Regions from separate parts of the Homo sapiens genome. Here all the other regions are linked to region 2. Evidence: fine-mapped expression QTL. A gene starts in region 2. Each other region holds a variant in brackets. All regions are shown on one strand. Distances are from middle to middle. Region 1 overlaps SYK (spleen associated tyrosine kinase). Region 2 holds the start of SYK (spleen associated tyrosine kinase). Region 3 overlaps SYK (spleen associated tyrosine kinase).

Region 1 (8,185 bases), 82 kb after region 2:
GGGTCACTTCCACCTGATCCTATTGGTCAGAGCAGCCAAGGCCACCAGCTTCAAAGGATGGGATAGATAGAACCACCCTTTTGAGGAGAAGTGTCAAAGAGTCAAAGAACATGGGGCCAATTCTAAAACTGCTGTAGATATTAAACAGCATACCATTAAAAAGTAAACTAAACTAAAAAGTAAACCAAAGATTGTCTTTGGACAATCAATGAAGAAAAAAAGCCACTAGGGAAATAAAAGCCATCTTGGAAGCAGCAAAAAGAGACAAAACTACCGAAAAGATAGGGTAGTGGAAGATTTCTGTATGAAAACAAAGCAAAGTGAAATGGAAAAGAATAAAAAGTGGGCCGGGCGTGGTGGCTCACGCCTGTAATCCCAGCACTTTGGGAGGCTGAGGTGGGTGGATTACCTGAGGTCAGGAGTTCGAGACCAGCCTGGCCAACATGGTGAAATCCCGTCTCTACTAAAAACACAAAAATTAGCCAGGCATGGTGGCAGGCACCTGTAATCCCAGCTACTCTGGTGGCTGAGGCAGGAGAATTGCTTGAGCCCGGGAGGTGGAGGTTGCAGTGAGCTGAGATCGTGCCACTGCACTCTAGCCTGGCCAACAGAGCAAGACTCTGTCTCAAAAAAAAAAAGGAATAAAAAGTGAAACAAGATCAAAGAAAAGTGCTAGCTGTGGAAGCAAACGAACGCTGGCACTCGGGAAACCATGCGTGACAGGGTAGATTTGTGCAGCATCACAACTGAAAAACACAGGTGTTCTTTGATCCAGCAGCTCCTTCCGAGAGCAAACACACACATCTGGTAATGTGCACTCTAGCACGGGCTGCCACGGCAAAAATCTGGAAACTGCCTGACGACTGCTCCGCAGGGTTTGGTCCAATCAGTCATAGCAGATTCACAGGAAGCTCACAATGCAACCCTTTTAAAAGTGACTTATTTGCATGTGCTGACCTAGAAATATGTCTACTATACATGGTTAGGTAGAAAAATTAAAAAGTACAGTGCTCAAAGAATATGCCCCTAGTTTTATGACCAGAAAAAAGTATACACTACCTATTTATGCATGTATCTAGGTTATTCTGAAGACAGCCTAAATTTCATTGCATTTAAGATTTGTCAAAGGTTTACTTTTTTCATCAGTTCAAAATTCAGAAGAAACCTGAAATAACACACATGGTTGTATTGTTCATGACTTGTAAGATCAAAATTTTAAAATAGCACACAAGGTGATGGAAACAGAAGTATAATCAGTTGTATCATTTGGAAGAGAAGTGCCAGGGCACCTTATGGTCTCCAGATTGATGTCCTGAATGTCTCCTTGTGATCCACTGTAGTGTCATGAAATCAGTTTTCACTGAAATCATGTCCCCCTCTCCACCCCAATGAGACCTCACACAGGTGACATCAGCAGAAGATAACCAGACTCCGCTGTGTGCCCCCTGAATCCCAAACCCAGAGAGAGGGTTTTGCTATGCAGTTTTGACCTCTGTACTATCACTTGCTTTTTAAAATTAGGAAATTAGAATGCTTAGATCATTTTTTAATGATGCTAGCAAGTAGTGCATGCTAAAATAATTGACCTGGGTGGAGAACTGATCAAGATGGACGACTAAATGCAACTAGTATATGCTCCTCCGTAGAGACGGACCAAAATAACAAGTACATATTCACACTTCCAATAGATGGTCTAAGAGAGAACACAGATGCAACCAAGGAGCGACAGGAAGCACCAAAAGCAAAGCACAGGGAAACAAGGCAGCCTGCTTGGCCAGGAATGACTGGGAGCTGGGAGAAGCTTCCAGATATGGGGAAAGCATAAATGAGAGATCCCCAGGGCTCCACATTCCAGCCAAGGACTTCTACAATCCTAGCGACAGAAGAACCCCTCGACCCACGTGGGCCTTAAGACTAACATAGGGAGCTGCCTAGGGATCACACAGAGGCATTGCTCCATAGAGGGAACTCACGCTGAGTCCCACAGGCTTCCAAGCTCTGAGTAGCTGCAGCTTGGTGCCATACTGAGAACCAAGTCCCCAAAGGACTGCATCTTGCCCTGGGACTATTGCTGATGCTGCCATCACCAGGCCAAGGACAGAGGGGAGAATGGACACCTTCACACACCCCAGGGACAGATCCCCCTGCTGCTACAGGCTGCTGTGGGGCTGAGACACAAGCAAATCACACCCCCTATAGCTGCCTGCCTACACTGCTCCCCCTGAGAATGTCCGCAGCCTCCCCAGGAGCAGGCCCATAGCCAGCGCCATTCTGAGAGCCAAGCCTCCAAAGGTCTGTGTCCTTCCTTGGGCCAGGGCTGATGCTGCCACTGCCCCGCCACATAGGGAGAAGGGAGGCCAGGCACTTTCACATGCCACAAAAACAAATACCACCACCACTGCTGAGGGCTGCTGTGGGACCAAGGCTCAAGAAGACTGCATATCCCACAGCTACCTGCCTACTCTGCACCTATTGAGAGTGGCCCTACCCTTTCTGGTGGTAGGCCTTCAGGGCAGCCACTGCTGGCAACCTAGAGACCACCCCTCCCTGCGTATCACAGCCAGCAGCTGAATGCACCACCAGGGAGCCTGAGCACAAGTCCATTGGCCTAGTCACATGCCCCAATACTTGAGCATGACATCCTGTTGCAGCCACCGCCAACACCAACATGGACCACTTGGGTTCCAGTGAGTTGCCCTACCACCATTACTGCCATCACCCACATCACACCCACTCCCCAGGAACCCAAGAACCTGCCCACATGCCCAGCCACTGCAGCATCCACACAATCTACCTGAAAGCCCAAGGGTCAGCCTTCTTAGACCTACTAACACCAGTGCTAGTGTATACCGCCCTAGGGCCCAAGGACAGGCATACTCAGCTCACTGCTGTCACCACTGGGGTCTGAAGACTGGCCCACCTAGCATCCTATTCACAGTACACCTTCACAACAGCCTCCACTAATAACCATACCCTAAGGCACTGAGAAAATCACAGGTGTCACTGAGGCTGTTTATGGCCATAGAAATTATACATAGATTAAATACTGCATTCACCCCAAATCAAACCCAAAGTGCCCTACATATATATATGTGTGTGTGTATATATACACACATACACATACGTGTATATATACACACATACACATACGTGTATATATACACGCATATACACATACACATACGTGTATATATACACATACACATACACATACGTGTATATATACACACATATACACATACGTGTATATATACACACATATACACATACACATACGTGTATATATACACACATACACATACGTGTATACATACATACACACATACGTGTATATATGCATACATACACATATGTGTATATATACATACATATACACATATGTGTGTACATATACATACACATACACATATGTGTGTACATATACATACACACACATACACATATGTGTACATGTACATACATACACATACACATATGTGTACATGTACATACATACACATACACATATGTGTACATGTACATACATACACATACACATATGTGTACATGTACATATATACACATATACACATATGTGTACATGTACATATATACACATATACACATATGTGTACATGTACATATATACACATATACACATATGTGTACATGTACATATACACATATACACATATGTGTACATGTACATATACACATATACACATATGTGTACATGCACATATACACATGTGTACATGCACATATACACATATGTGTACATACACATATACACATATGTGTGTATATACATATACACACATATGTGTGTATATACATATATACATATATACATATATATACATATGCACATATGTGTATATATACATATATATACATATGCACATATGTGTATATATATACACACATATATGTGTATATATATATATACCCAACATAT[A/G]TATACCCAACAACATATATATATTTTCAGGAAAAAGACCTCCTCTACAAAAGCAATTTCAAAAAACTGGAAGAAATGACTGTTGTACCACATGGGCAGATATCAATGTAAGAACACAGGAAACATGAAAAAGCAAGGAAATATGATACCTCCAAAGGAACACACAATTCTCCAGCAAAAAAATCCCAATCAAAAAGAAATTCACAAAACCCCAGATGAACAATTCAAAATATTGATTTTAAAGAAGCTAAATAAGATATAAGAGAATTCTGAAAAACAATAGAGAGAATTCAGAAAAACAGTTCAGGATATGAATGAGAAATTTATCAAAGAAATAGATATTTTTAAAAGAACCAAACAGAAATTCTGGAACTAAAGATTCATTGAATGCAATAAAAAATACATCCCAAACTCCACCAATAGACTAGATCAGGCAAAAGAAAGAATCTCAGAACTTGAAGACAGGTCTTTTGAAACAACCTATTCAGACAAAAATAAAGAGAAAAGAATAAAAAAGAATGAGCAAACCCTTCATGATATATGGGGCAGTGTAAAGCAACTGAATATTCAAATCATCAGTGTCCCCAAGGGTGAAGAGAGAATGAAAGATTAGAAATCCTATTTAATGAAATATTAGATCAAAACTTCCCAAATATAACAACAAACCTAGACATCCAGATGCAGGAGGCCCAAAGGTCCCCAAACAGATACAATGCAAAATCATCTTCTCCACAGCACGTTATAATCAAACCACTTAAAGTCAAAGCAAAAGCAAATATACTAAAAAGAGCAAAAGAAAATCTTCTAATTACCCATAAAGGAACCACCATTAGACTAACAGTGGATTTCTCAGCAGACACCTTACAGGCCAGGAGAGAAGGGGATGACATTTTCAAAGTGCTGAAAGAAAAATACTGCCACCCAAGGAGACCATGTCCAGCAAAACTATTCTTCATAAATAAAAGAAAAATAAAGCCTTTCCCAGGTAAGCAAACACTGAGGGAATTCATCACCACTAGACTGATCCTAGAAGAAATACTCAAAGGAATCTTAAACGTGGAAGTAAAAGGACAATATTTACCATCATAAAAACACACAAAAGTATAAAACTCACTGGTAAACCAAACATACAAATAATCCTGTTAAATAGTGGGCTAAGAACATAGATAGACATTTCTCAAAAGAAGATATACAAATGGCCAACAGGTATATGAAAAAATGCTCAATATCACCAAACAGCAGGGAAATGCAAATTACAAACACAATGAGATACCATCTTACCCCGGCTAGAATGGCTGTTATTAAAAAGACTTTTTTTAAAAAAATGCTTTGCAGATGCAGGAAAAAAAGGAACTCTTATACACTGTTTGTGGGAATGTAAATTAGTATAGTCACTACGGAAAATATTAGAGAGACTTCTCAAAACAAAAACAGGCTGGGCACGGTGGCTCACACCTGTAATCCCAGCAGTTTTGGAAGCCCGAGGCAGGCAGATCACAAGGTCAGGAGATCAAGACCATCCTGGCTAACACGGTGAAACCCTGTCTCTACTAAAAATACAAAAAATTGGCCAGGCCTGGTGACAGGTGCCTGTCATCCCAGCTACCTGGGAGGCTGAGGCAGAAGAATGGCATGAACCCAGGAGGCGGAGCTTGCAGTGAGCTGAAATCACACTACTGCACACTCCAGCCTGGGCGATAGAGTGAGACTCCATCTCAAAAACAAAAAGAAGAAAAAAAAACTAACTACACATAGAATTACCATATGATCCAGCAAGTCTACTATTGGGTATTTATCCAGAGGCAAATAAACTTGTATCAAAGGGACACATACACTCAACGTGCTTATCATAGAACTATTCACAATAGCAAAGATGTGGAATCAACCTAACTGTCCATGGATGGATGAATGGATAAAGAAAATGTGGTGTGTATATATATATATACACCTCTAGAGGTGTTCACTGGTTACTTAGGGTACACCCTATGTAAATGAAGAGGCTAAAGTGAAGTTACAAAGTTATTTACTTGGTGTACACCCTATGTAAATGAGGAGGATGAAGTAATGTTACAAAGTCATTTACTGAGTGTACACCCTGTGTAAATGAAGAGGATATTTCCTGTCATAGCTGAAGTGTTTCCATTTGATTTAGTTCTAGGAAGTCCTTAGGTTCCCTGCCTCCAGGCCCTATTCTCCTGTCTCAATTTCACTCAGCATAATGTCCTCTAGGCTCATGCATATTGTAGTGAATTCCCTTCCTTTTGAAGGCTGAATGCTATTCCATTGTCTATATAGAGGGTGTTTTGTTTATCCACTCATCTGCTGAAGGACACTTGGGTTGCTTTCATGTTTTAGCTATTGGGAATAATGCTGCTATGAACATGAATGTACACAATTTTATGCTTTTCTTTCTTTCTTTTTTTTTTTTTTTTGAGATGGAGTCTCTCGTTGTGTCACCCAGGCTGCAGTGCAGTGGTGTGATCTGAGATCACTGCAACCTCTGCCTTCTGGGTTCAAGCAATTCTCCTGCCTCAGCCTCCCAAGTAGCTGGAATTACAGGCACCCGCCACCACACCTGGCTAATTTTTGTATTTTTAATAGAGATGGGGTTTCCTCTTGGCCAGGCTGGTCTCAAGCTCCCGATCTCAAGTGATCTGCTCTCCTCAGCCTCCCAAAGTGCTGGGATTACAGGCATGAACCAATGTGCCCGGCCCACAATTTTATTCTTAATGGAATTTCTCCCTCTGCTTTGCTTTTAGGCCCAGACCCATGGAAAGTGGCCTGTCAAGTGGTACGCTCCGGAATGCATCAACTACTACAAGTTCTCCAGCAAAAGCGATGTCTGGAGCTTTGGAGTGTTGATGTGGGAAGCATTCTCCTATGGGCAGAAGCCATATCGAGTGAGCCAGTCCTGCTTCATTTTCTCACTGTGGGGCCATTAGAACAGATAAGCACCAGATTGTCTTTACAACAACCTGAAAATCCTAATCTGAGTCTCTCATTATCTTTTACCAGTAAGCAGTTAATGTGCCCTCAGTCTATTCCAAACTGAGAATGAAATATCTGATGCTCACTGAAGAGTGTGTTTTTCCCATTGTGTGTCAACACATGTAAATATACACAAAATATAACCCAGATCATTACTCATTAGAGTTGAAATAGAAATAATGACTATTTACAGTATCTTAATTACATTTTTTAGATCTTTTAATTAAAACATATATACCAAAAAGGGCACAACTCTTAGCATGCAGTACAGTGGTTTTCCACAAATGAAACATACCCATGAAATCAGCCCCCAGATGAAGAACAGAACCCCAGAAGCCTGTTTCCTCTGCACACACAGCCTTCCCCAGGGGTGACCCAACTGACTCCAACATCACAGATTAAGTGCTCCTGTTTTTATACTTCGTATAATTGAAATCATACAATGTGTACTCCTTCATGTCTTGGAGTGGCTGTTTTGTTTTGTTTGACTAACACCTTTAAAAAAAAAAAAGCTTATGCATATCTTGCATGTTGTAGGGGATGAAAGGAAGTGAAGTCACCGCTATGTTAGAGAAAGGAGAGCGGATGGGGTGCCCTGCAGGGTGTCCAAGAGAGATGTACGATCTCATGAATCTGTGCTGGACATACGAGTGAGTACCTGACACTGACTGTGATGTATTCAGATGCTCTGGAAACAGGTGAAATGGTTGGGCGTCTAAAAAAAAGGATAAAGTTCACCTTTTCATGAATCAGGAATGTGCCCGCTTTCTAAACAAACAACGGTGGGGGCTGGTCTTGCTTTAGAGACCTTGCTTTCTGGCCCATGCACTTACATGTAGTAGAGCCTAAAGAGCAAGTTTAGATGGGGACTCTAACCCGAGTGTCCAAATTTAAATGTCGATAATGGTGGAGAGATGGGGCAAGGGCAGTCAAAGTAAAAAAGTGTTTGTAAGAGTTTGGGGCTGGATGCCATTTTTGGCATAGAGGATGGCAGAAGCACTCGGTAGGGGATGGTATACTTTCCTGACTCCCTGATTACCATGAGCAGTGAGGGGTGACCTCGGACTCTGGCCAGCTCACAGATACATTGGCTAAGGTTGCACTTCCCTAGAATCTACCTCATCCTTGAAGTGGTGGCCTCAGTCCACCCTGACTGCCGTCATACGTCTCGCTTAGTGGATCCCAGGTGCTGTTATGCTTTTAAAGTACACCTGGCATTATTCTTAGGTGATGTTCAGGGCAGCTCAGCAAGGAAGGAAA
Region 2 (8,185 bases):
GAAAGAGATAATTTTGTAAGGGTCACCTAACGGTAATGATGATTATGTCTGAAATTTGGGATGTTTCTATTTCCTTTGTGCTTTTATTCTTTTAAGGGATTGCCTATTAGGAATACTTGCCACTGTTACCAAAAAAACTATTTTTTTAAATTAAACACTATTTTTTAGAGCAGTTTTAGGTTCACAGTAAAAATGAGAGGCAGGTACCGAGGTTTCCCATATACCCACTGACCTCACACATGCACAGCCTTTCCCATTATCAACAGCCCCATCAGACTGGTACATTTGTTACAATTGATGAACCTACTTTGACACATCATAATCACCCAAAGCCTGAAGTTTACACTGATGTTCCCTCTTGGTGTTGTATATTGTATGGTGTTTAACAAATGTATAGTGCTGTGTATCCACCATTGTAATATCATACAGCATACTTTCACAGCCCTAAAAAATCTCTGTTCTCCTTCTATTCATCCTGCCCTCCCCACCAGCCCATGGCAGCCACTGATCTTTTTACTATCCAGATAGTTTGGCTCTTTCCAGAATATCACCTGTTGAAATTATACAGTATGTAGCCTTTTCAGAGGGCTTCTTTCACTTGGTAATATGCATTTAGATTTCATCCATTTCTTTTCATAACTTGCTAGTGCATTTCATTTTAGTGTGGAACAATATTCCATTACACTGATGTACAAGAGTTTATATATCCATTCACTTACTGAATGACATCTTGTTTGTGTCCAAGTTTTGGCAATAAACTTAGTAAATAAAGCCAGCGTAAACATTTGTGTGCAGATTTTTGTGTGAACATAAGGTTTGAACTCCTTTGGGTAAATACCAAGAAGCACAATTACTGGGTACTACTTTAGGTAAATACCAACTACTTTGGGTAAATACCAAGAAGGACAATCCTCTTATAATTACTCATGTTGTAAGAGGATGTTTAGTTTCATAAGAAACTGCCAAACTGTCTTCCACAGTGGCTGTACCATCTTGCATTCACAACAGCAATGAATGAGTATTTCTATTGCTTCACATCCTCACTAGTGTTCACTGCGGTCAGTGTTCCGAATTTGGGCCATACTGATATCTTACTGTCTTCATTTGCATTTCCCTGATGATACATAATGTGAACCATCTTTTAGGCTAGGCATGGTGGCTCACGCCTGTAATCCCAGCATTTTGGGAGGCCAAGGCAGGCAGATCACGAGGTCAGGAGATCGAGACCATCCTGGCGAACACGGTGAAACCCCGTCTCTACTAAAAATACAAAAAATTAGCCGGGCATGGTGGCGGGCGCCTATAGTCCCAGCTACTCGGGAGGCTGAGGCAGGAGAATGGCGTGAGCCCAGGAGGCAGAGCTTGCGGTGAGCTGAGATGATCGGGCCACTGTACTCCAGCCTGGGCAACAGAGTGAGGCTCCGTCTCAAAAAAAAAAAAAATTACTACATGATACTAAGTAATGCGGAAGGTGACTCAAAGGGGGAAAGGAACACAGCAGTGTAAAGGAAGGAGGTTGTAGATGGATCTAGAATTTCCCCCTCATTTCCATCAGGTGAAAGCCTGAGAAAACTGCAATCTTTGTGCAGGCTGGGTTTGCTTTGTACACACTGGTCCCCTAGTGTTCATCTCCAATAATGCTGACAACTCTGAAAACCATCTGTAGACATTCTGCAGGCTCCATCTCAGGAACAATGGCTATTTTTTCGGGTAGTTGAAGCAAAATTAAGTCCAATGATAAGCAAATATAACCATTATCAAAATCTTCCATTTATGTTTGTTAAAGCAACCTAAGTATGATCTGAGAAGGACTCTGTATTCTATATTTGAGTCCTTGTGGATGAACTGTAACCTAGCTTAATAGGCAGACAAGATTGAAAACCTAATTTAGGAGTATGTGCCTTTAACAATAGCTGAGTCTTGGCCAATCCCAGTGGCCATACTTCAACCATTCATACACTGCTGAGTGTTCAAACTGTGTTCAAAGAAGGCAAAAGCCAACCTGTAACCAATCCAGTTGTTTCTCTGCCTTACCTCCAATTTCTGTATGTCACTTCCCTTTTTTTGTCTATAAATATGTTCTGACCATGAGGCATCCCTGGAGTCTCTGAATCCGCTGTGATTCTGGAAGCTGCCCCATTCGCAAATCATTCATTACTCAATTAAACTGCTTTAAATTTAATTCTGCTGAAGTTTTCTTTTAACAGGTTTAGAAAAAATAATGGCAAAAATGAATGAAAATCCAATAACCCTGGAAGCAGAAAAGGCTGGGGGCTCCAATAAGTGTAAATAGTCCCATCCCTATATTTTCTCCATGGCAATTACAATCCAGCACATTATATATATATTTTTTTGCTTCTCGCATTTTGGCTTAGGGTAAAGCTTTTTAAAACAGGCACTGCCAACCAGTGTTATCAAGAAGGTCTGGATGCCGTTTTGTGGGAACATTTTAAAGAGGAATGTCCAAAAGGAAAAGGGGGATGGGTTGGGAGAAGGGTATCAGGCGGGTATCTCAAAACCATTCTTAGGGCTATAGGTTTAATTTATTTGGTTGTGGACGTCAGAGCCGTCATGGTAAGAAGGAAGCAAAGCCTTTTGTAATAATTAAAGCCTTCAGAAGCAGCGTGCCCCATTGCCCACTAGTGCGCCGTGAAGTCTGGTGTTCACCTACAGGGTCCCTCTCAGCACTGCCCAGGCCTCCCGAGTGCTCCAGCACAGTAGCTTGGAGCTTGTTGGTTTGGTGACCAAGATACACTCCAGGGAATATGCCATGCAGTGGAGTCTCTTCCCCGGCACTGCATAGCAAAAGGAAAGGGCCGCTGGGTGTCTGTGGGTCCTGGGCAGTCACAGAAGCCACCGCGCTGGCGGGGAGGAGGGGGACCGATGCGGTCCATGTCCCGGGCAGCCCCACCTTCTCTGCCTGCGAAGGGCCCTTGTCCGGCGGGAGGAGAGAGGCGCGCCCCACCCGGGCTCCTCTACACCTGCCGCCGCCTGGGCCGATTCCGCGGGCCTCGCCCGGCGCTTCAGCCGATTCCCGCCCAGCTCCGGGCTCATGGGCGCGGTCAGCAGGGCGGGCCAGGGCGGCGGGGCGCGACACTGGGAGGAAGTGCGGGCCGCCTGCCCGGGCGCGTTAAGGAAGTTGCCCAAAATGAGGAAGAGCCGCGGGCCCGGCGGCTGAGGCCACCCCGGCGGCGGCTGGAGAGCGAGGAGGAGCGGGTGGCCCCGCGCTGCGCCCGCCCTCGCCTCACCTGGCGCAGGTAGGTGTGGCCGCGTCCCCTACCCGGCCGGGACTTTCTGGTAAGGAGAGGAGGTTACGGGGAACGACGCGCTGCTTTCATGCCCTTTCTTGTTCTACCTTCATCGGCCGAGGTAAAAGTGCTGAAACCATGTGAATAAAATACAGGTGGGTTCCGCCAGCTTCGCTCCTGAACCTACCCGCGCTCGGGATCCAGAAGCTGCGCCGGGAGAGAGGGGCTCAGGCCTGGGCGGAGGGGACGGAGGTCAGACCGTGCGGAAAGTGACCCGGGCACCCCAGGGCGCCCAGGCCCCCAGGGAGCGCGGAAAGTGCGGTCGCGGCCCGGCCCTCGGGAGACGCGGGATTGGGATCAGGCACAGCGCGAGGAAGTCGATCTTGGAGCTAGAACATTTTCCTTTGGCCATTTACACGAATCCACTGGAAAATGCCGCAGTGTTTATCAAAGTTACTCAAAGTAGAAATGTCCAGACGTCTTATGAGCTTAGACAAATCTTTTACTACAAAAAGAAACAGCAGTTGCATTCAAACAACAACCCTTCTGAACCACTACTAAAATTTAGCATAATTACTCTTGTGGATACATTTTCATTGTCAAGTAATTTACTTAGCCAATGAACTTGGAGAGCAAGAAAGTTTTATGTAGTAAAATGTAAATTTGAGTTAAGAGTTAAGGGTGTTTCTTTTTGTCTGTTTGTCTGTTTTTGGCAATGTGGCTCCAAAACCTTAAGCCCACCTAAAAACTATATAAATGCAATCCATTCTTTTGTTGGAATGTTCAAGGACTAGAAAGACAATTGGAGAAGTGAGAGTTTGAATCTTTTTTTACGTTGGAAACAGTGTTGCAAAATATTTTTTGAGTTTTGCCTGACTTAGCAAAGATTCAGTCGAACTCAAGTAGAGTTCAAAGCATTGCAGCGTGTAGTAAAAAAAAAAAAGAGTTGAAGATGTTGTGCCATATCTGATTCTTGGTATTAAAAATAAAAAAAGGAACCATTTAATCCCTAAGAGTTCCTGGAAGAAATGGAATTGATTCTACCATCTGACTTCTTTGTCTTAGTAGGGACAAATTCATTGCCTTCACACAGGCAGCATTTTAATTAAATGCAACTAAATACATTGATGTCCTCCTTCTCCCCAGTGAAAGTCCGAGCAGTGCATAGATAGAATTATATTTTCTCAAAAAGGCTTAAATACATGTAAATTATTAAGTGTTTTAAGTGAGAAATCTTTGTCAGTTGAAATTATTTTATCAAATCATTTTTGTTCTGAACGGCACTTTTGTTTTAACGTATTTAGAAAACTCTTGCATTAAAACAGAAATTGATTTGTATTATCCCCTGTATTTGAAGTGCACTTTAAAGTGTATTTGAATGAGAGATTATAATCAAATTACTTGATTTGTGTCTTATCCTCTTACTCTTCTACCTTGGATTTGAAAAGGTTGGATTTGAACACTAGGAAAAAAGAGATTTTTCTACTGAGGGATTGTGGGAAGATTTTTTTTTAAGCCTCTGTATTTGAAGTGAAATATAAAATAGGATTTTATAATAGTCTTAATAACTAGAAAGTTTTAAGCTAGGATAAAAATGGGGTGTATACTTTAGGTCTTTATCTTTCCTGAGAGATGAAATTGGTAGAAACGTTATTTTATTGCTAGATTTCACTTTAGAAATGAATCACCCTGATCTTTGTTAGGCCCCTATTTAATATTCTAAATGCAGGTCTAATCTCTCTGCTTTTTTTTAATGGAAGACTTCTTAGTAGAACTTCACTTATTTAGCACATTGTTTGCCCATGGTTATAATCCAATATGCTTGTGCCAAGACGTATTTTGGAATTCAAGCTTTTTCAGAATTTGGAATTAAAATTTAGAATCTAAATTTCAGAACTGAGAAAGACATTGCTCAGAATTTAGAAAGGTAAACATACATGTTGACCCTGCTGGTTACATGCCATTCCAATATAGTCTGGAGAGAATCCTGTAATTCCATGCATTAATATTTCTGTACTTTTACATTTAAGAACATGAATATTCTCACTAAGTGGAATAAATAAAGACTATAAAGAGCTGTGTGTCTGTTTAGAGCAGGTGTTATCACTACGAGAGCTTCTCTAAGACTTACCAAAAAAAAAAAAAGTGTTGTTTTTCAGAGCTTTTTAGAGCTGCAGCTGAGGGACTGAGTCTGTATTAGACTCCACTGAACTACGGTTTGCTTTTAAAAGGAAAGTGCATTTATGTTGTTCAATACTTCACACTTTCCAGTAATTAGAAGGGCAGTTCCTCTCTCTTTAGGGAGTCTTAAATAGCAAGATTTTACTGAATTTTCAATCATACCGATCAAAATAGAGGTACTTCAAGTAAGAGTGGATGTCTCATCTTTGTAATATAATTTCAAACAGCATAGTTTCTGACAGTCTACCATTTTAGAGAAACAGAGCAGAAGTTACTTACAGGAGGGGTTACTGTCACCCTTTACAGCTGCAGTCTGTCCATGGAAGAAATATTATTTCCTGTTAACTTTGCAACCAGCTGGGTTTGTGTCAGTTATCTAAGCCTAAGTGATGGCTAATTTTTACTTTCTCAACTTTCCCTGTATAGATTTTTTTCCAGCTACCCCCTGACTTTTCTACTCTTGCTTTGCTGGTTTTAACATTTTCCACTACTTCTGGATTGGTTTAGCTATAACTGGGTGGAGAAAACAACAACAACAACAGGAATTTAGGCCTTTGGGGAAGAATTTGTTTTGTTTTAGAAGTCTACACATTGAGCATTACTTTTTCTTCTAAAGCAACTAAAATCAGAAGGCAGAGTCCTAATGAGAGATTATGATCAAATTGCCTCATTTGTGTCTTATCACCTTCCTCTTCTACTTAGATTTGAACAGGTTGGATTTGAATACTAGGAAAAAAGGGTTTTCTACTGAGGGATTGTGGGAAGATGTTTTAAGAACTAGTCTGATTGGATTTTAGGAAAGTTCATTCATTTTGATATGATGTTATCAGGGACATTTTCTATTTGCTTATAATTTTATCTGACCAATATTAGCTTGTATCAATTTGAGGTTTTTTTTTCCTTTATGAATCAATTGTGCAAGGTTTGCCCTACATCTCTTAAAAGGTGGTTAAACTGGAATCTTAAAGACAGTTGAATTTAGCCAAGACCAAAGATATGCAAAGAAAGAATATTTTGTTTATGTTACAGTACATTTAATAAATCCAAATGGCTCCCTTGATTCTTTTCTTTCTGGGACACCACGTATTGATTTCTGGCAGCTGGCCAAAGGCAGATGGTGGTGGAGCAAGCGAGGACAGTTAAGAATGTTGATGATTACTGGATTACTGAGGAGTACTGTGAGCTTTCTGGTCCTCTGCTCAGAGGTGTCTAGCTCTGAAACTGGGATCCTGGCTCTGAGCTGGAGAGGCGCTTCCAGTTACTGCTGTCCTGGAGCGCTGGAAGGGAGCATAAGTGTGAGGAGACAGTGGGCTTTTAGCCTGGGATGCAGATGAGAGATGTCTTGACCTGAGTGAAAACCTTGCAGGCAAGCTGCAGGTCTACCGAGCAGGGTGAGGGAGGCTCTCGACCTGGATACTGTGAACTAGGGAGAGAAAGTAAATTCAACAGAAGGAGGGCCCAGGGCAGAGATTTAGGAATATCCACAGTTTAAATATTGCTTTACTTAAGTATACTCTGCCTGACTATAAGTAGCATTTGAATGTTCAACATATGACCTTTCATTTCTCCCCTCCATTGGTTTGTCTTAACTGATAAATCTTTATTTTCCCATGGTCAACCTGGTAGTTTATTAATATTACATCTATCAGTTCCTGTTGAGTTGACATGAAAATGTTTTGGTGTGACCTAAGTTAATTTCTCTTTTTGTTTAATTTTAATTTGTAATGAGTTCCTCTTTTCATTCTGCCCATCCTTTGGTACTGCTTTGAGTTATGTCCTCTAGAATTCTCACTATTTCCTTATGATTGGCATATTTTCAAAGTTTTTTGGTGTACTAATTTTAAACAGTGTTTGTTGACACTGAGAATTCAGGACTTTGGAGTTTTAGACCACCATCACCTTCTACTCCTTCTCACACCATCCCAGGATAATTATTCTCTCATTTGAGATTAAGAAGTTATTTGGTTTATTTTATTATGGTTATATAAATATAGTTTACTGCTAAAGCAAGGTATATCATTCCATTTTCTATCTCGTACCCCTTTTTGCTCTTCCTGGGGTAAACCCTTGCTTTGTTTTTGTGTTTTCTTAGTTTGCACTGTGCCTATTATCATTTCCTTCCCAACTTTCTGACATAAAGATGAAAGCCCTATTGACACAATTTTCTACAGTGTCAGATATACCAAGTAATCTCACGGTTCCATTTTTCTTTCTTTTTTTCTAGAACCCTCCATCTTCTTCTTGTCTAACAGTTGCTCTTCAGTCTTGCTATACATACAGTAATACCTGAAGAATGTTTGGAGGATATTTGGTGTGGGACTTTTCTTTTTTTTTTTTCTTTTTCTTTTTTGTAGAGATGGGCTCTCACTATATTGCCCAGGCTAGTCTCAAACTCCTGGGCCCAAGCAATCCTCTTGCCTCAGCCTCCCAAAGTGCTGGGATTATAGGCATGATCCACTGTGCCCAGCCCTATGGGGAATATTTGTTGACTAAATATGTTTTATGTAAATTGCTTATCATACTCTTTGTTGTAACATCTGTGGCATTAATATGCCTCTTGTTAACACTCACCTACATTTTACCTGTTGTAAATCCACTGTCATAATTATTGAAAATATTTCTCCAGAGCTTTTTAATTCTATGGTTATTTATTTATTGTAGTATAGAACTTTTATGATTTCTTCCATCAGGGTGCATTCTGAATCATGCTTAGTGAGAGATGGTTTTTAACTCCACTTTAACAGTTAGCATCTATG
Region 3 (8,185 bases), 94 kb after region 2:
TAAAACATGAATTCCCAGGACCTTGGTGAGATGTCCCCTGGCTCCCTGCACAACCTCAGCTCCAAGGCTTTCCTCTGAGCGGCACATCCTCTGAGAGCCCTGGGTCATTCACAGGGTCGGTGGCCACTGCCGGAGCTCCTGCTATGCAGGCTGCCACCCCAGGTGCAAGCCTCACAGAAGCCTCAGACCCTGTCCCTATCAGACCTTATAGTTGGGGCTGGGGCAGACAGGCAATAAACAATAAGCTAAAAATAAGTGTGTCCTATGATGTGTCTTAGGAAAGGGATGACTCCAGTGGGAATTCTAAGCAAGGAGGGCACAGGGGCCTGGAGGATATCACGTGTATATATGGGGTTTTTTAAGCCCTCTCGTGTCGAAGTAGTTTCTCACAGTTGCCTGCAGCACAGAAGCACATTGGAGCTTCTAGAATGTGGTGGATTCAATGAAGGGACTACAGGTGGTCCTAGTATATTCTCTGTTTTGTTTTGTTTTGCTTTGTTTTTTCATTTTTTCCTCAGTAGTAAACAGCCACTCTCTCCAAGGTGATATATAGAGACAGACAGAGAGAGCGGGAGGGAGGTAGATGAAGGGAGAGAAGGAGGGAGGGAGGGAGAGAAATAGTCTCATTAGCACAAACCCAGGTATGGTTGAAGGGGGTTTATTATGAGTAACAAAAGATGCTGCTTTCAGCCCAACAATCAGGAAATTCCAAGGGTTTTAGGAGCTCTGTGCCAGGAACCCAGGATAAAGACCATATATCTCTTTATATAAAATCACACACTGGAAACTTTAAAAGAGAACAGAAAATTATGGGGAGGGAAGCCTCACACTTCCAGCAGGGGCTCCAGATAGGCCGCCTTTAGGGATTGCAGCTGAGACCTGCAGGCTAAGAAGCAAGGTTGAGTGCAGGGATGAGGGGAGAGGAGGAGGGTCACTGGGTACAAGGAGCAGAGCAGAATCTGCACTCTGGCCCGAAAGCAGAGTGGCAGGCCAGGGCAGGCCAGGAAGCTGGGCACGCAAGGGCACTGCATCACCCTCCTGCTGCTGAAGCACAGCTGTGTCCCAGCTTCCTGGAGGCAGCATCTCCCATGGATGTACAGGAGAGATTTCCTAGGAGACCTGACCAGGTGTTTTTCCTGAGGACGAGTCTGTATTCCTGTTTCCCTGCATTTGTTTGCTCCTTGGCTGCTGGGCAGATGAACCCCCAGAGCAAGATCCAAAGGTGCTCTTTGTACCATTTGGATCCCCACAGTTGGAGCAGAGCCCCCTGTTTTGCAAAGATGCTGAAGTGTGTTCTCTTTGACTGTAGAAGTTTAGGAGCAAGACAGAGGCTGTCCCTCTGGGTGGACACATGCTCCTGTACCAGAGGCTTGGCCACCATATCCCCTCTCGGAACACACTTGGTGGCCAGAGACAAAGCCCCTCTCAGTGACACCCTGGGAGGCCCGTGTCCCCAGACATGACCACAGATGGCTGACCACACTGATCAATTCGAGCAGTTTTATCATTTTGCTCACTATTGAAAGCTATAAGAGAAACCATGTATTTTGATGCCATTTGACAAAGCTACCCATTTTGATTTGTAGAAGCCACTCTGCTCTTATAATGATGAGTGAGTCTTGGTCCTGATGCGCGTTCTATGGCTGTTCTCTTGTGTCGACATTGAATCATATGAAATTGCCATTGATATAGGTCAAAATGGCTGAATGTGGACGGTTTCCTACAATTTAACCTCACATTCTGTTTCACTTTTTCACTTATTGTATTTCAACTTCACCCACTTGCAATATATCCAGAAATCTTGCAAAATAAGAAAAATAACTTCTAAGTGAGGATCGATTATCAGGGTTTTAGTACTTACTTCCAACTGATCTGTACAGGATGTCTGTGTAAGACAAAACAGAAGTGTCTGTAAGTGTTTGTTTAGAGACTGCGAACTGTTAATGCTTTTGCCCATAGTTTACTGACATTAGTGCCTCCCTGGCCAGCAGTGGCAGTAAGGACTGGCTATATTAAGGTGGATCATAGACAAGCCCTGGGTCTTTGCTCCTGCCATGACATGTTTTGAGCTTTCCTAAGAACCCATATCAACAGCCCATTTTCAGAAAATCCAGAGCCATCGATTAGAGCGTGGAAAGGGAGAATTAAAGTTATGTTCGTATTTCTTCTCTTAACAAGATTATGAGTCAGATGTTGACTATATCTGCAGAACATTTGCCAAGTATTTTCAGACACCTGTTTTGCTAAAATCACAGAGTGACAGCCTCTTCGTGTTGCCTGTGGCACAGAAGCATATTGTGTGCCGCATATCTGAACCTGGGGCTAAAACACTCCCAGTTCTAATGCAAAAAGTCTCCTACTTTAGGGTGGACATGAATCACCGGGAGGTCTTGTTAAAGTGCAGATATGGGTTATTTAGGTCTACAGTAGGCCGACACTATTTTTGACAGCCTTGTGGTCACCCTGGGGTGGGGGGCACAGGGACCACGCTGTGAGCTGCAGGCCCTAGAGTTAGCCACCAGGGAGCAGCACCACTGGTACTCAGCCTGCAGAGGCCCTGCTTGTGATCAGCAATTTTTCACAAGCACATTGACAAACAAGAATGCATCTCTTCCATTCCAGTGTGGAAAACAGGCCCGGATTCGCAGCAGTGGAACTGCGGCTGCGCAATTACTACTATGACGTGGTGAACTAACCGCTCCCGCACCTGTCGGTGGCTGCCTTTGATCACAGGAGCAATCACAGGAAAATGTATCCAGAGGAATTGATTGTCAGCCACCTCCCTCTGCCAGTCGGGAGAGCCAGGCTTGGATGGAACATGCCCACAACTTGTCACCCAAAGCCTGTCCCAGGACTCACCCTCCACAAAGCAAAGGCAGTCCCGGGAGAAAAGACGGATGGCAGGATCCAAGGGGCTAGCTGGATTTGTTTGTTTTCTTGTCTGTGTGATTTTCATACAGGTTATTTTTACGATCTGTTTCCAAATCCCTTTCATGTCTTTCCACTTCTCTGGGTCCCGGGGTGCATTTGTTACTCATCGGGCCCAGGGACATTGCAGAGTGGCCTAGAGCACTCTCACCCCAAGCGGCCTTTTCCAAATGCCCAAGGATGCCTTAGCATGTGACTCCTGAAGGGAAGGCAAAGGCAGAGGAATTTGGCTGCTTCTACGGCCATGAGACTGATCCCTGGCCACTGAAAAGCTTTCCTGACAATAAAAATGTTTTGAGGCTTTAAAAAGAAAATCAAGTTTGACCAGTGCAGTTTCTAAGCATGTAGCCAGTTAAGGAAAGAAAGAAAGAAAAAAAAAAAAGGCCTGGATACTGCTTTTGCTGTCTCTGTTATGAGATGGAAGACTTACATGTTTGTGATAAAAGGGGACCATGAGAATGAATTGGCTTGGCTTACTTTCCCCCTGAAATCCTCTCTCCTGCAGACTGTCTTGAAGACCTGGTGACTGGTAAATAAAGCCCTGCATGGAGGCTGCACAGCAGGGGCAAGAGGCCCATCCCCCAGCATCTCACTGAGGACAGCTTCAGGCTGCCTTCCTCTGAACGTGGTCCACACCTTCCTCTCCTCCACAGAGAGGGTGCCGCCAGAATCCCCTGTCGCTTTCTGTGTCTGCAATGGGGGGCAGCACAGGGATCAAAGCCATCTAAAGAGTTTCCA[A/G]AGAAAGTATTAATTCAGAACAAGCCAAAGACCCTGAGCCTCACCACAAACAGGCCTTTTGGAGTGTGAATTTGAGTTGAAGATACAAGATCGGAGAATGATTTTCTGGTCTTAACTAATCCTCATCTTCATGTTTGATCTTTAAGAAGTCATCACCCATTGATTTCAGTTTTGCTGTACCTCTTGAAAGTTAAAGAGACATCTCAGCACTTTAGGAGGCCGAGGCGGGTGGATCACTTGAGGTAAGGAGTTTGAGACTAGCCTGGCCAATATGGTAAAACCCCATCTCTACTAAAAATACAAAAATTAGCCGGGCATGGTGGCATGTGTCTGTAGTCCCAGCTACTCGGGAGGCTGAGGCAGGAGAATCGCTTGAACCCAGGAAACGGAGGTCGCAGTGAGCCAAGATCATGCCACTGCACTCCAGCTTGGGCATCACAGCGAGACTCTGTCAAAACAAACAAACAAAAAAACAACTTAAAGAGGTAATTTAGCCATCATTCTTATGCCAGCAGATATAAATAAACTTGGACCCATCTGGTCTTCAGCTAAACCTGAGACATTTTAAAGTGCATGGACAGCCATGGACAGCAGGCCCTCCTCTAACAGGGGATGCAAGGCATGGAGAAAGACAATCAGTACCCAAGCTCAGCCACAGAAGACAGGAGTCACTCATATAACTTGTGTTTAGAAGTTTTTGGTAGCCACGCACACTTTCTGAAATCACACTATCTGGTGGTTTAATCATATTTTTAAAGACAGAATCCCTGAGTGCTGAGCAGATTCTCAAAACACATTTAGAATCCCTGAAATTAGAAAGATCAATGACAAAATATCTGTCAGCCAGGCCACAAACAGGTGTAAAATTATGAAAGGAGTGGTTGGATGTGCCAAGTTTGGTAAAGTGGTGACTGCATCTGAGAAAGAGGCTGTGAGGCTGAACTCTTGGTGGCTTCCTTCTGTAACTTCCAGAGGGAGTCTTCAACACAGGCCCCGTGCTCGTAGGAATACGGTAGCACCTATGTAGGAAGTGCGTGGAGTTTTCTGTCTTCTTTCTGTGTGATTTTTGGCCTTTTTATCAGCACTTCTCCCCTCCCAGGAGCCTGGGGATGCCAAACATCCAGAATGTGATGGGACAAGATGGGGGCAGGGGCCTCACCTCCCTGCAGAGGTCCGGCCAGGTCTCCTTGTCCCTGGACAATCTCCTGAGCCTCTCTGCTTGGTGGAGCAGGCACCTGTGTGCAGAATTCCCACTGTGGCCAGCACGAGGAAGTCTTTTCTAGTGAAAATGTGTCTTGTGGTCAGGAATAATTATCCTTTCCCCTGTAGCCACCAAGGAGGGCAAATAGAGAAAGGTAACCTAATTGAAGGATTGGTCATGTGAAAAGGGCTACATTTGGGAAGCTGGGAAAGGCCTCCAGGCTTCTAGAGCAGCTAGCTTGGGCTGGATTCTCATACCCAGGCTGCCCCTTGGATTGTTCTACCCAAGCTTTTCCCTGGGGTCTGGGCTCACTCCATAAGGTAAGGTGCCTTTTACCTTATGGTCCTTCTTTAGCAGGTAACAAAGGAGCATCAGGGGCAGGCTGCCCTGGTGGCATCACACTGGCTAGTGAGGCCGTGAATATCTTGTCCCCCAGCAGGGCCGACAGTTTCTATCACAGAAAACAGTGTGTTCAGTGGTGAAAATCGTTGCATGCATGTTTTCATCTGAGCGTGTCCTTCTCCCATACTCCCTATCAGCCAGCCCTGCCTGTAGCTGCTGTATGGTGATTGCACTTGGACATCAGTCCAATGACTGCAAGTCGGCCTGGATTTTCACTTGCAGAGGCTACAGCTGCATTGTCAGGTCTCCCAGCCCTGCAGAGAGCTCCCTCCACTGGTTAGCAGTGTGTTGTGTTTTCCATTCATTTCAGAAGAGCTACATTGTGTCACTGGACATTTTTAAAAACTGTGATTTTTAATAAAAATTTAAAATTTGCTTTGTGATGATTTTCATGGAAGTTATTAGGATGTGGTAAGTCACACTGTCAAATAGTGTCAAGCAGCATTGTCAAAGGGGTAGCTAAATGTTTTCTAAAACATTAAGTCCCTGCCATGTCCCAAAAAAGTGAATGTGTTGGCCGGGTGCAGTGGCTCATGCCTGTAATCCCAGCAGTTTGGGAGCCCAAGGCAGGAGGATCTCTTGAGCCCAGAGTTTGAGACCAGCCTGGACAACATAGTAAGACTTTAGCTCTGCAGAAATCAAAACATTAGCCGGGTGTGGTGGTATGCACCTGTAGTCCCAGCTACTTGGGAGGCTGGGGCAGGAAGATTGCTTGAGCCTGGGAGGTCGAGGCTGAAATGAGCTGTGATGGCACCACTGCACTCCCAGCTGGGTGACAGAGCAAGATCCTATCTCAAAAAAAAAAGTGGATGTGCACAGGTCAAAGTTGACTGTGAGATTCCACCACACAGAACGGCGGGGAGGCCCATCAGGGAGGGCCCTGTCCTGCCCTGCCTCTATCTTTTATTCATGAGCAGAGCATCTACCCAGCCAGGGCCTGACAGCCCATGGCCTGCCTAATAAAAGACAGACTGAGGAGACCCAGAAATCCCCCATCAGGCCAAAGCAGGGCTGTGGGTTTTGAGCTATCCCTTTCTCTATGAAGACAGCCTAAAAGGAACTGCGGTAGGCAAAGAAAGGATTCCAGAGCCCCAATTTCTGCCTGTTCTAAGGAGGTTACACACATGCGCAGACATGCACACATATACATCCACATGCACACATGCATTCACACATGCACAGAAGGCATGCACACGTGTACATATGCACACATGCATATATGTCAGTGCATACATGTATATGCACACATGTACATACACATGTGCATGGGCACAAATGCATGCATTTACATGAACACATGCATCCACACACATAAGCACATGCACAAATGTACACATGCATTCACACATGTGCACACATGTGCATGCATGTACATACACCTGTACCCACATGCACACATATACATACACATATGCAGAGACGGGCACACATACATACACATGCACACAAATACACAGAACATGCATGCACCACACAGTACACATATACACATACCAAACACATACCACATACACCTTCACACACCACACACATACATACACTGCGCATACACATACTATGCCATACACACACACCACGCAAGCACACACACACAAAACGCACACACCACCGCACATACTGAACCTTACTCCAAATAACCACTTAAAAATCCATGTGAGGCAGTGGTCCTGCAGTGGACACACCCTCGTGTCTGTATCCATCTTCATTACCACCCTCTCTGGTGTCAAGCACTAAGGGACTCTCCTCACAATCTTCCATCCTAGCCTCCCCTGGGTCCCCTCTGCTCTTGCCAAGCCAAGTTAGGTTTGGAGGAAACAATTAAGTTGGCTGGGCCAAGGCTCCCTGGGTCAGCTGGGAGATGGGAAGGACACAGACTGCCCAGTAGCCCAGTGGCCTGCGGGGGGCTGCTCCAAATACAGTGGGGTGGTGAAGAGCCCTGAAGTCAGAGAAGAACACAACACACAAGAGACCACTGGGCTCCAGCACTGACCTTAGGCATGTCCTATAAATTGAACCCCTGAGCACCACAATTTCAGCTGAGGGTGCCTATGCTGACACATGTAAGTGCCAGCACAGTGGCCTTATTCTAAAAATGTCAGCAGATGCCATGGTCTGTGCTGTTCATGCCAGTGGCCATCTGCTGGGAGGAATGCTGCAGGCAGCAGACGGCGCAGGCCCTAGGACAGCTCTGGAAATAAGCACTGGCCTTTGGCTTCAACCCCAGGGAGGGAAAAACTCTTGTGATAATGTATCACTGCACTGCAGTGAGATGGCTTTACCACTAGCCTGAGCTGCAGCAGAGAAGCGGTTTAAGACCCCGGGGCTTGTCCTTCGGAGATGAGGAGGGGACTTTAGAACTGATAGATAAATATATTCTCATTTTAGGGAGGAAGGGAGCACTTTGAAAAAGGCAGATTTTGGTTTTTAAATTATGTTTTAGTTTGTGATAAACAATGCCGTGTCTCTTTTCCTCTCTTGGTTACTCGCTGGTGGTCTCAGGGTGGAAATTCATCCCTGCTTCTGGGCAAGCAACCCTACCGAATTATTACCTCCTCTCTGGTGTTAGGCTGCAACAGGGACCAACACCTCTGTGCTGTGGGACCTCCCACCCCCTCCTGCTCCATGCTCTGTCTCCTGTGGCCTGACATTTCCAAAGAGCATCCCCAAAAAAGGCATTTCACAAAGTGTCTTCCGGGATATGAGTCTGGAAGGTGGAGACACGCTCTACAGCACGCAGTTTCCCTGATTAACTAACTTAGAAAACATGGCCAAGTACATTCACAGTGCACATTAATCTACTAATAGCTCCAAAGAGCACTGCAACCAAGATCTTTTCATGGAGCTTTTCTAGCTCAACATTCTCCTGACTTCTTTTGCCACTACCACTAGGTGCTCAATACCTATTAGCATGATAGA

Evidence for each region.
Region 1: its variant is fine-mapped to the expression of SYK in whole blood (INTERVAL, PIP above 0.99).
Region 3: its variant is fine-mapped to the expression of SYK in whole blood (TOPMed, PIP above 0.99).

The regions. Positions count from the first base shown.
Region 1 is chr9:90,881,053-90,889,237 of GRCh38, forward strand. It overlaps SYK (spleen associated tyrosine kinase), which reads left to right. Exons shown (of 14, transcript NM_003177.7): 12 at 6,697-6,837; 13 at 7,463-7,575. Among named protein-coding and RNA genes, the nearest start is that of SYK, 83 kb to the left of the region's middle. The variant A/G (reference allele first, on the strand shown) is at 3,938.
Region 2 is chr9:90,798,637-90,806,821 of GRCh38, forward strand. It overlaps SYK (spleen associated tyrosine kinase), which reads left to right and starts at 3,183. Exons shown (of 14, transcript NM_003177.7): 1 at 3,183-3,257. RefSeq lists silencers at 2,932-3,141, 3,162-3,321.
Region 3 is chr9:90,892,906-90,901,090 of GRCh38, forward strand. It overlaps SYK (spleen associated tyrosine kinase), which reads left to right. Exons shown (of 14, transcript NM_003177.7): 14 at 2,623-5,644. The coding sequence ends at 2,695. Among named protein-coding and RNA genes, the nearest start is that of SYK, 95 kb to the left of the region's middle. The variant A/G (reference allele first, on the strand shown) is at 3,667.